2 separate regions of the Homo sapiens genome follow, and region 2 is linked to region 1. The links come from fine-mapping of genetic effects on gene expression. A gene starts in region 1. The other region holds a variant in brackets. All regions are shown on one strand. Distances are from middle to middle. Region 1 holds the start of ACTR1B (actin related protein 1B). Region 2 overlaps TMEM131 (transmembrane protein 131).

Region 1 (5,377 bases):
CCTTTAGGCCACTCATTCCAAAGCCTCCAGGATTTGTGAAGAGGTGCCCCTAAGGGCAACTTTCCCAATGGGCTCGTGGTGGGTGCAAGGGGCACCCCAGGCTCTCTGGGTTTGCAATTCTTATTCCCGCCCCCACCAGTACCATACAGGGCAAAGGATCCCCTCTTAACTGAAACAAGACATTTTCTAGAGTCTGAAAACAAGCCCGGCAGAAAACACTTCCAGGGAGGAAAGGGTGGCTGTGCATCTAATTCCTCACTCTTCCTGCTCCGAGTTTAGGGCTCCCCTCGGAGATGTCTCCCTTTATTCTTGCTGCTGCTACCACACCCCATCCCCAGGGAAATGCTGGTTGCTTTTCCTCCTTGCTGGCTCAACAAGACCAAAACGAGAGACTCCCAAGACAAAGGGGAACCCTAGAACGCTTGTCTTGTTCTTTCAGTGCTCTCTCAAGAGTGTCAACCTCACAAATTTGGTGTTTTCCATACAGGTCAGGGCACAAATTGTCTTCAAAGAGCCCTGTGACAGAAGGCCAATGTTCTTACAGAAGGTAAACAAAAGGACTAAGGCTGCTGCCTGAGCCACACTTACTAGTTTGGGAAACAGTATTTGGGAATCTGGTCTCCTGCAAAGCCAGCTTTAATCACCCCCGAACCCTGCAAGGAAAAACAAAGTTGAGCTGCCCACATGCACCACCAGATGAAGCCAGTCCCCCGCAATGGAGAGAGCTGGCTGCCCCGTCAAGGCAGGCCAAGGAGGAAGCCAGGGACCCTGCCAGGATCATTTACAAGTACACCTATGGTTCAAGATTGGGGGCAATTTTGTATCCCCCTGCTCTGGCAACATTTGGCAATGTCTGGCAGCTGGGGAGAGGGGACATGCAGTGGGGGATGCTATTGGCATCTAGTGGGCAGAGGCCAAGGATGCTGCTCAACATCCTACGATGCACAGGCGAGCCTGCACTACCAACAAGGAGCTAGCCCAGAATGTCAATAATATAGAGATAGAGAAACCACGAAGGGCACCTTCCTCTGCACAACTAATGGTTGGCTCCAGCAGGATTCCATAGCACATGCTACTCCCAAAAGCTAGAAGAAACCCCTCTGTGTGGGTCTTTTTTTTTTTTTTTCAACAGCTTCCTTCTCCCCCAAGAACCCAGAAGGCATGGAACATGGACGACCTACAGGGCCTGCTGGAGAAGACCAATGGGTGCATGGGATGACCGGCAGCTTCCCTCAAGTGGCTTCCCAGAGACTACTAGGAGAACTTGGTCCTATCGCTGCCCCCACCTGGAAGCTGGACTTAAGGATCCCCCAAAGAACGGGGCAATTAGAAACCTCCCACCCAGCGAAGGGATAAGCTTCTCAACTCAGTCCCACCACTCTTCATCGCAACCCTCTGAGTCTGCAGCAGAAACAAACATCTCCAAGTTACAGAGGAGGGGATGGAATCCCCAAGGGGCCGAGCGGTAGCCCTTTTAACTTATAAGCCTGTTGATTAGCCTATACGAGTTATTTGCACGTCAAGAAAGGAAGTAGCCTGCTCCTTCCTGCAGCGTCCTGCTGGTGTGACAGCACGTCCCCAAGCTCAGTGCTAACCTCCTTATTAAACATCCCCTGCTGTGACTCAGGGAACCCACATGGGTACTCTAAAACAGTCATTCAGGGACCCCACGGGGTCATGTGGGAGGGAGACAGATCCCAGAAAGAGCACAAGTGAGTCATTACCAAAAACTCCAAGGCCCGCACACCGGACGCACATACCCAGCTAGGGGCAGACTCAAAGATCCCAGCCCTTATCTTCTCCCCATATCAGAGCTCGGAAGCCAGAAATCTTCCTAAGGCAGGTGAAAGCAAGCCGAGCCCCACTGCTGAAGGACAAAGCCACAGGAAGCCTGATGACATCTTTCCTCTGAGGCTTCCAAACGATCACCCCAAATTGCTTGCTGATACTGGGAAGAGTGGCCATGAACTCTCCATTGCTCTGCTGGCTGTGGAATGTTTGCTCAGCACAGGAAGCATTTAAGGAGAAAGTCAAAGTAGCCAAAAGGCAAACCAGATGGTGGTGGACATGTGGGTGACAGAGCATCCTGCATTTGTTGCCTCGGGGTGCAGCCCCAAAGATAAAGCCAGCAGTGTGCAAATGACAAATGCTACCCCACCTCCGCCAGGCAGCCAGAGCCAGGGCCGAAGGACGCGGAAAGGAACTGGTGTGGAAACCTGCCCAGGAACCGCACTCTCAACTGAGAAGAGTCCGGGGCGCGTCCCCGCCCGGCCGCCCGGCTGTCACTCAAGCTCTCCTGAACTTCCCCGCCCGACTCGGGGAGGGGTCGGGGAAGAGGCTCTGCGACGCGGGCGAGGGGGCTCGCCCCATGGCCGGCCTTACAAGGCCAAGAGGGCGCGCGCCCCCGGGGCGAAGCCAGCGGCCCGGCGGGGGCGACGGCCACGCAGTGAGCGGAGGACGCGCCGAGGCGGGCGGGGGTCTCTCCCTGCGCCGCCGCGTGCGCCCCCGGGGGCGGGGCGCCCGCCCTCCCCCTGGCTGCCGGGCCTCACGTTGTCGATGACCACAGGCTGGTTGGCGATGATGTCGTAGGACTCCATGGCCGGGCCGCGCCGGCCCTGCCCAGCAGGCGGGCTGCAGGAGGCACCGGATGGGCGGGCGGGCGGGAGGACCGGGACGGCGGCGGCTCCCGACGCGGCGCCGCTGCCCTCCCTCCCCGAGCCTGCAGCCTACGCGAGCCCCGCGGGGCTTTCTGGAGGGCGGGCCCGGCGGCCAATCATCGCTCCCACCTGGCCCGATTGACAGCAGGTGCCCGGGGCTGGCTGCGCGAAGGGGGCGGGGCCTCCGGAGGCTGGCCAGCCAATTGAGGTCGTCCGGAAAAAAGTGGTCGCGGCGTTGCCAAGGTAGGCTGCGCAGTGTCTGGGATGATGTCATGGCTCCGTCTTAAAGGGGACGCGGGCGGCAGAAAGTGGAGCTGGGCTGGTGTGCGCGCGGCCGGAGTCTGTGGAGCTGGAAATTCACCGGTCCAGGAAGACGTCTTTCCCGCGTCCCAGCACCGGTCCAGAAAGACGTCTTTCCCGCGTCCCAGCACCTCGGGCCACGCTCCTTCGTGAGAGCGCCCTCTCCAAGGAGGCCGGCCCTGGATATTTCACCCAAAATATTTATTTTTTCTTTTTTTCTAGGTAAGGTGTCTTGCTCTGTCGCTCAGGCTGGAAATCTTGGGCTCAAGCGATCCTCCCGCGCCAGCCAGTAGGGGGGACTACAGGCGCGCACCATATTTATTTATTTTTACTGAAATAGTCTCCGTAGAGACTGTTAAAAATTGCCGATGTCGACTATATTGCAAGTCGTCACGGTGGGGTATTGCGAAAAGTTTTCAATTAGCAATAATCGCGCTTCGGATAAACCTCATTGGCCACCATACGGCCACCGCGCAACGCTAGCTAATTAAAAAAAATTTTTTTTGTAGAGAAGGGATCTCGCTATGTTCCCCGGGCTAGCCTCGAACTCCTGAGCTTAAGCGATCCTCCCGCTTAGTCTTTCCAAAGCGTTGGGATTACAGGCGTCAGCTATTGCGCACGGCCCCATAATATTTCCTCGTTGAGCACTGAAGAAAAGATCCTTTTCCTTATAAAAATTACAGTTTCGTGGTATTTTGGTCCTGGCATTTATTGAGCACCTGCTCTGTGCCTGCGGAGCACTTCTGCCCACTTTACATAAGTTATATTAAATCCTTGCAACAATATCAGGTAGTTGTATTATTACTCCCATTTTTCAGTCAGGGTCTTCACACTTTGGTAACCTGCCCAAGATTATTGGGTGTGGAATTGGCATGCAGGTAGCCCCCTGCGGCACTGGAGTCAGCTGCTTCAAGAGTGCAGGATAGTTGAGTTCTACATTTGTTTACCAAACGGATCCATAGTTATTTCCCTGTATATATACCTCTCCCAATGGGTTGTGAGCATAAAATTTGTAAAATTGAAGCGGGTGTGCAGAAATCACAAGTGTACATGTACATTTCAATGAATGATTAAAATGTGGACACACTTGCATAACCACCGAGTTCAAGAAACAATATTGTTGCTGGAAAAGGGGTCCCGATCCAGACCCCAAGGGAGGGTTATTGGATCTTGCCCAGAAGAAATTCAAGGCAAGTTGCAGAGTGCAGTGAGAAGCGATTGTTTATTGAAAGCTACTCAGTTACAGAGTAGGCCATCCTCAGAAAGCAAGAGGGGGAACACACCCTCTTTATATTAAACTCTTCTTATAGAGGGGTCTTATCTATGTAAAAACTAAGCTATGTCTACATGAGGGTGGGCTGACAGCATAACAAAATTTAGTGCTTTTTGATTTAAAGAAAGTTATCCTTGGCATTTTAATGCATAAATACATCAAAGCATGACTCTCTCTCTCTCTCTCTCTCTCTCTCTCTCTCTCTCTCTCTCTCTATATATATATATATATATATATATATATATATATATTTTGTTTTGTTTTGTTTTTTTGAGACAGGGTCTCACCTTGTTGCCCAAGCTGGAGTGCAGTTGCCTGATATCAGCTCACTGCAACCTCCACCTCCCAGGCTCAAGCTATCCTCCTGCCTCAGCCTTCCAAGTAGCTGGGACCACAGGTGTGCACCATCACGCCCAGGTAATTTTTTTGTATTTTTAGTAGAGACCGGGTTTTGCTATGTTGCCCAGGCTGGTCTCGAACTCCTGAGCTCAAGCAGTCCACCCACTTTGGACTCCCAAAGTGCTGGGATTACAGGTGTGAGCCATCGAGTCCTGTAACTATAACTATCTTAAATCATATATTGTTAGGCAATATTGGAGCATCTGGACATTTTGTTGTTGTAGGATTTTGTCCTTGCAGGCATTACTAAACTGCTCTTTTAGCCATAGCATCTTATGACCATGGGTTGGGACTAGCAAGGAATGTGCCTTGCTAGTTTTAAGATGGAGTTGGGGCCGGGCGCGGTGGCTTATGCCTGTAATCCCAGCACTTTGGAAGGCCGAGGCGGGCAGATCACGAGGTCAGGAGATTGAGACCATCCTGGCTAACACGGTGAAACCCTGTCTTTACTAAAAATACAAAAAAGTAGCTGGGCGTGGTGGCATGCGTCTGTTGTCCCAGCTACTCAGGAGGCTGGGGTAGGAGAATCGCTTGAACCCAGGAGGCGGAGGTTGCAGTGAGCCGAGATCGCGCCACCAGCCTGGGCGACAGAGTGAGACTCCGTCTCAAAAAAAAAAAAAAAAAAAAAGATGGGGTTGAGATGGGCACGGTAGCTCATGCGTGTAATCCCAGTACTTGTGGAGGCTGAAGTGGGTGGATTGCTTGAGCCCAGGAATTTGAGACCAGCCTGGACAACATGGCAAAACCC
Region 2 (5,377 bases), 170 kb after region 1:
CAATGTAAAAATATACTAACAGCAAATCTAATTTTTAAACATATGGTCTTCAATCTTAACTACATATTATTATATATAGTCCATATACATCCCAAATTACAAGTGCTCTTAGTTTTTCCTTAGCAAAAATCTTTACTTAGTTGTTTTTAATTTCAGAATTTGAGTTTTCTGAACAGCTGCAACAAACTTTCAACATTTTGTCAAAATGTAATTTAATAACTCATATCTAAACAAAATCCAGAAGTAAAAATCAAGATTCAGCGTAACTGAACTGATGAGCAACTGGATTAAGAAACTAGAAAACTATTTTCTGCCTCAATCTTCCATTTAGATGACTTAAATTATCCCATGGCCTTGTTTTCCAACCTGTTAAGCAATGCCACCCACCCCTCAGCGGAATGGGGTATAAACCTGTAAAGGCGCTGAGTCTGAAAAGGAGATTTGTACAAGATCATGCAACCAACTGAGAAATAATGTTTAAAGCTGAATTACATAGTAGAGCCATTCAGCACTGAATACAGGGGTTAAAAAAAAAAAAAACTCCATAAAGACTCTTTTAAAAGATTTTTTTACCTTGTGTTCTTAGTGTACCAAAATCTAACATTTCAGTTGAGGAATAAATTCCAGGAGCTTGGAAAAAAGAAAAGTCAACAATTATTTTTCACTTTGCCAGAGTAAGCTATACTGAAAACAAAACAACTTTCGATTTCATCAGTTTTCCACTAACCTGTTGTAACTTCAACCTCAACAGGAAGAATGATAAACTCTGTGCTGTCTGAAGCATTAGTCTTTATTCTTATGAAGGCTGTGTGATTATCTGCTTCTCTAGATGAAAAACTGGCTCTCATCACTCCCTTGGTTTCATAAGGAGGAATTTCCTGACAAGTTAACAGACCATAATGTAGCACAGCTTTTGTAATGTAGCAAAACCACCATTTTTTATTGAACTGGATGACACTGACTGAAAGATGAGTATTCTATATACCTATTAATAAAAAAAATGCATTGCTAATTAAACCAATATGTAACACACACTCCATTTCTGGAGAACTTTAAAATGTGAAAAATGTGCTGTTTAGAATTGATGAAATACGATATGTAAGGTAGGCAAAGCAAAAGAAGTCAAATGATCTGAAAACAAATTGTCAGTTACAAAATCACCATTAAAAGGTAAAACTAATCTACAAAATCAGTTATTTTTTAATATGCTAGTTAGTGGTGTTTGGGTATATAACTCAGTCTTGAAATTTAACCAACAGAAATGTCACCATCAGAGGTAAATACTTTTCTAGAAGTCCACAAGAACCTTCATAAATGATAACCAGCAGGGCTTACACTGCTCTTTCATGGAAAACTTAACAATGCAAAGCTTCTCAAGTAAATCCACAGTTTACCAACTGCATTCATGTAAGACAGCATACATTTTCAGTCCCGTAATGAGAGAACATTTATATACTAAAAGGAAGACTTACTGGAAAAAAAATTTTGAGGAGTAATCTCTTTCCTGGTTTCAGAACAATATGGCTCCCTGGGACTGCCTGAATTTCTTCTCTGCACAAACCTTTCAGCATATTTTAGGAGATTCTTGTGTTCTACAGCTTAGTGGCCTTCACTTATCCCTACTCTCTTTTTTAGTCCCAAAGTAGAAAACAGGTGATTGGGACCCTCCTAAGATTGGAGGGATGGACCATCCACTCCCCAGCTCTAGGGAGTTGACTTGGTCTCTGGGGTTTTCACCTATACACCGAAATAGGCTGGAGGTGAGGTCACAGCCCATTGGCTTTTTTCTCAGTCTAGGTTTGTAGGAATAAGAACTACCATATCTTTTTTTGCAGCCACTAGGACTATAAAAACATGCTATTCTCTGTTATCATTATCACTCTTGACTATTTAAAAATCTGAATTCTCTTAGGTTTATTTATTAGATACCAATTATGTTTCACAGGAAGTTCTTAGTTCTGTCTAGAATAATATATACAGATATAATAGTCTGAATTTAATCCTCTGAAGGATTGTTTTATAGATGATTTTTCCCTCAAACACCACAATTTCAAGGTGAAACATTTTTGTGAAAGGATATAAATGAACTGTCCATTGCATATTTCTTTTTGCTGGTTGTGTTTCTATATTCTGGGAATTAACCAAATAACTGGCTGATAAATTTGTTTCTAGATGTTCATATTAACATTCTAAAAACATAATCTCCACATCTCTTCTGTGGTCAAGACTGGTCAGAAGACAGAATCAAGAGGCTGTGTGTGTGTAACAGCAGTTAATAAAGAAACTCTGATCCTCAAACCTTACTCCTGGTTGTAAAATTTGTGTTCCTCCATTACAGATGAGCAGTGATCTGAGTGAGCTGGATATGGAACTGAATTGACCACAATTGCCTTCTCCCTCTTGAATTAAAGCATGGTAAACATTTTTAAAACTCACAAATGGCAAGAATCTTTATAAATAAGGTTCTCTTACATATTCTTTAATTTGGTTAATATTGTTAAATATTCAACAATATTGAAGGTGAACACAGATCACCTTCAAGAATTAAAATTTTTCTAAGTTATCGCAGGCACTTGACTAGGTTCTCTCTGCAAATGCCATCTCCTTTACCAATGGTGAATCTGAACATTCAATTACTTACCTTCAAAAACAAAACAAAAACATAATGAATGCTTCCTACATTTTTTTAATCATTTACATTTTTTTATGTGTAAAGCACATCATAAATTATCAGACTCAGAGACAACTTTACCCAT[A/T]TAATTCGGAGGAAGAATAGCTGAAGTTACTTTCTTTCCATGTAGTGGGGTAGAACTCCCACCAATTTTACTCACTGCCCTTTCCAAAAATTACTACTTATATTCTTTCCTCCTCCAATTTTCATATATACTTGACATAAATTAACATTAAGACAACGATTAAAGAGAAGTCATCCATATTTGTTAAGCCTATTAAGGAGTTAAATATTTTCTAATTTAAGAATAATCGGTTTCATGGGAGCACACACAAGAGAAAACTAGGTTACAACTCACCCACAGTTTTCTGGTACCTCCTTGTTGACCCGTTGGGAGTTCTAGGTGAAGGTCTCCTCCACTAGAGTACATTTCTACAACCTGGGGCAAAAGAGCACATGATGGCTACGTTCAAAGTCATATTCTCAAAGCAGGTGACTTGCTATTACACAGAAATAATTCTGACATCCTAACTGTTTATCACAAAACATTTAAAGATATAAACGTAGGATATGTATAATATCACTAAATTCAGTGCTCTGTATGTGTAAGCAATAGTTGTATTTTTAATTAAAATAAGGTAACTTTGAAAATTTAACTTAGAAACAGTGTAAGTACCATAGTTGTTCCAGAGACCAGATTTTAGAAAGTAACAGGATACTTATTTTTCTTTTTTCCAAAGGGAATCACTTACAAAAATTACCAAGTTTTGGAAACATAAATTTTGTATTTCTTACAGTAACACAAAGTGCTTCTTTATCCATACATTTATAACAAGAGCCAGCAGTGGATCAAATAACTACCATAATTGTGAGATGGGGAAGAGTAAAAATATTTGAGATATATACAAAATAACTCTAATGGAACATGAAAATATGTGGTTTCTACTGGTAGCAAAAATATTTCTGTGGCTTATGCCTAAGCTTACTTTTTTTAAACAGCTTTATTGAGTTATTTATGTAAAATAAATAATACATATTTAAAGTATACAACCTGATGAATCCTGACCTATGTGTTTGGGCATAAAACCATCACTGTAATTAAGATATTAAATATATCCATTATCCCCAAAAGCTTCCTCATGCCTTGTGCAATCCATCCATCCTTCTCTGTCCCTTCCTATTTCTAGGCAACCACTGATCTGCTCTCTATCACCTCAGACTAGCTCATATTTTCTAGAGTTTTATCTAAATGGAATAATACAACATATACTCTTGTGTCTGGCTTCTTTTGCTCAATGCAATTATTTTGAGGTCTACCACTTTGTTTATGCATTAATAGTTCACTTCTATTTGATGACTATACCGCAGTTTTTCAATCCACACATTAATGGGACATTTGAGTTGTTTCCAATGTCTGGCCATTAAAGAGAAAGCTGCTGTGGATACTGAGTACAAGTCTTGGTGTGGTCATCTGCTTTCCTTTCTTTTGGGTAAATATATATACACAAAATGGGTCACAAGGCAGGAGACCTTCCTTTAAAGGTAAGCTAACCCTAATTCTTAAAAAGAAAAAATATATTTAATTCAATTAAATTTGGGGTGAAGTATGAGAATGGGTGGAAACGTTCACTTGTTTCATCACAAGAAGTCCTCCAGGAGTGAATAAAAAAGGATAAAGCAAGAAAAATGGCAATTCTTAAGCTTAAACTTTTTTTTTTTTTTTTTTTTTTTTTTTTTTTTTTTTGAGACGGAGTCTCGCCCTGTCGCTCAGGCTGGAGTGCAATGGTGTGATCTCGGCTCACTGCAACCTCTGCCTCCTGGGTTCAAGTGATTCTCCTGCCTCAGCCTCCTGAGTAGCTGGGATTACAGGCACATGCCTCCACGCCCAGCTAATTTTTGTATTTTTCGCAGAGATGGGGTTTCACCATGTTGGTCAGGCTGGTCTTGAACTCCTGACCTCGTCATCCACCCATCTCGGCCTCCCAAAGTGCTGGGATTACAGGCATGAGCCACTGCGCCTGGACCCTTAAAGGTTTTTTTTGTTTGTTTGTTTTTTTGGCAGGGGCCGGGGAGTTGCTGCTGTAAAAGTAATGCATTTACCAAAGACTGATAAGCTATAGATTTTCTTTGTATATTATTACTTGCCTGCTGATTTGTTACAGTGCTCATCTATAGTGCTTATTGTGTTAATAATAATAGCACCTTAAATGATAGGATGACTATAGAACTTTTTCTGGAAAACCAGAAAACATCACACATTATTTCATCAATCCTTCCAAGTATCAAGCAAACAAGCATAACAATGCTTGAAAACAGAAGATTAGACCAGACTCAGTGGCTCATGCCTGTAATCCCGGCACTTTGGGAGGCCAAGGTAGCGGGGATCACTTGAGCCCAGGAGTTGTAGGCCAGCCTAGGCAACATAGTGAGAGTCTGTCTCTACAAAAAAATAAAAAACATTAGCCAGGTGTGGTGGCGTGCACCTGTAGTCCCAACTACTCAGGAGACTGAGGTAAAAGGATTGGTTGAGCCTGGGAGGTCAAGACTGCAGTAAGCCAAGATGGCACCACTGCACTCCAGCCTGGTGTCTGGAAAACCAACCAACCAACCAACCAACCAACCAACCAACCAACCAACCAACCAAAAAAACCCCCAGAAGATTAAAAAGTCGCCTACTGATAACAGAGAAAATGAATAAAGAAATAG

Evidence for each region. PIP is the estimated chance that this variant, and not a neighbour inherited with it, causes the effect.
Region 2: its variant is fine-mapped to the expression of ACTR1B in whole blood (TOPMed, PIP above 0.99).

The regions. Positions count from the first base shown.
Region 1 is chr2:97,661,294-97,666,670 of GRCh38, forward strand. ACTR1B (actin related protein 1B) reads right to left here and starts at 2,751. Exons shown (of 11, transcript NM_005735.4): 1 at 2,550-2,751; 2 at 589-653. The coding sequence starts at 2,597. LOC124900516 (U4 spliceosomal RNA) reads right to left here and starts at 3,438; the gene lies at 3,298-3,438. It also overlaps a transcript of C2orf92 not described here and the pseudogene RNU4-8P. RefSeq lists enhancers at 1,213-1,854, 1,820-1,889, 2,930-3,269 and silencers at 2,250-2,309, 2,390-2,849.
Region 2 is chr2:97,834,048-97,839,424 of GRCh38, forward strand. It overlaps TMEM131 (transmembrane protein 131), which reads right to left. Exons shown (of 41, transcript NM_015348.2): 8 at 3,030-3,110; 9 at 728-878; 10 at 574-630. Among named protein-coding and RNA genes, the nearest start is that of ZAP70, 120 kb to the left of the region's middle. The variant A/T (reference allele first, on the strand shown) is at 2,757.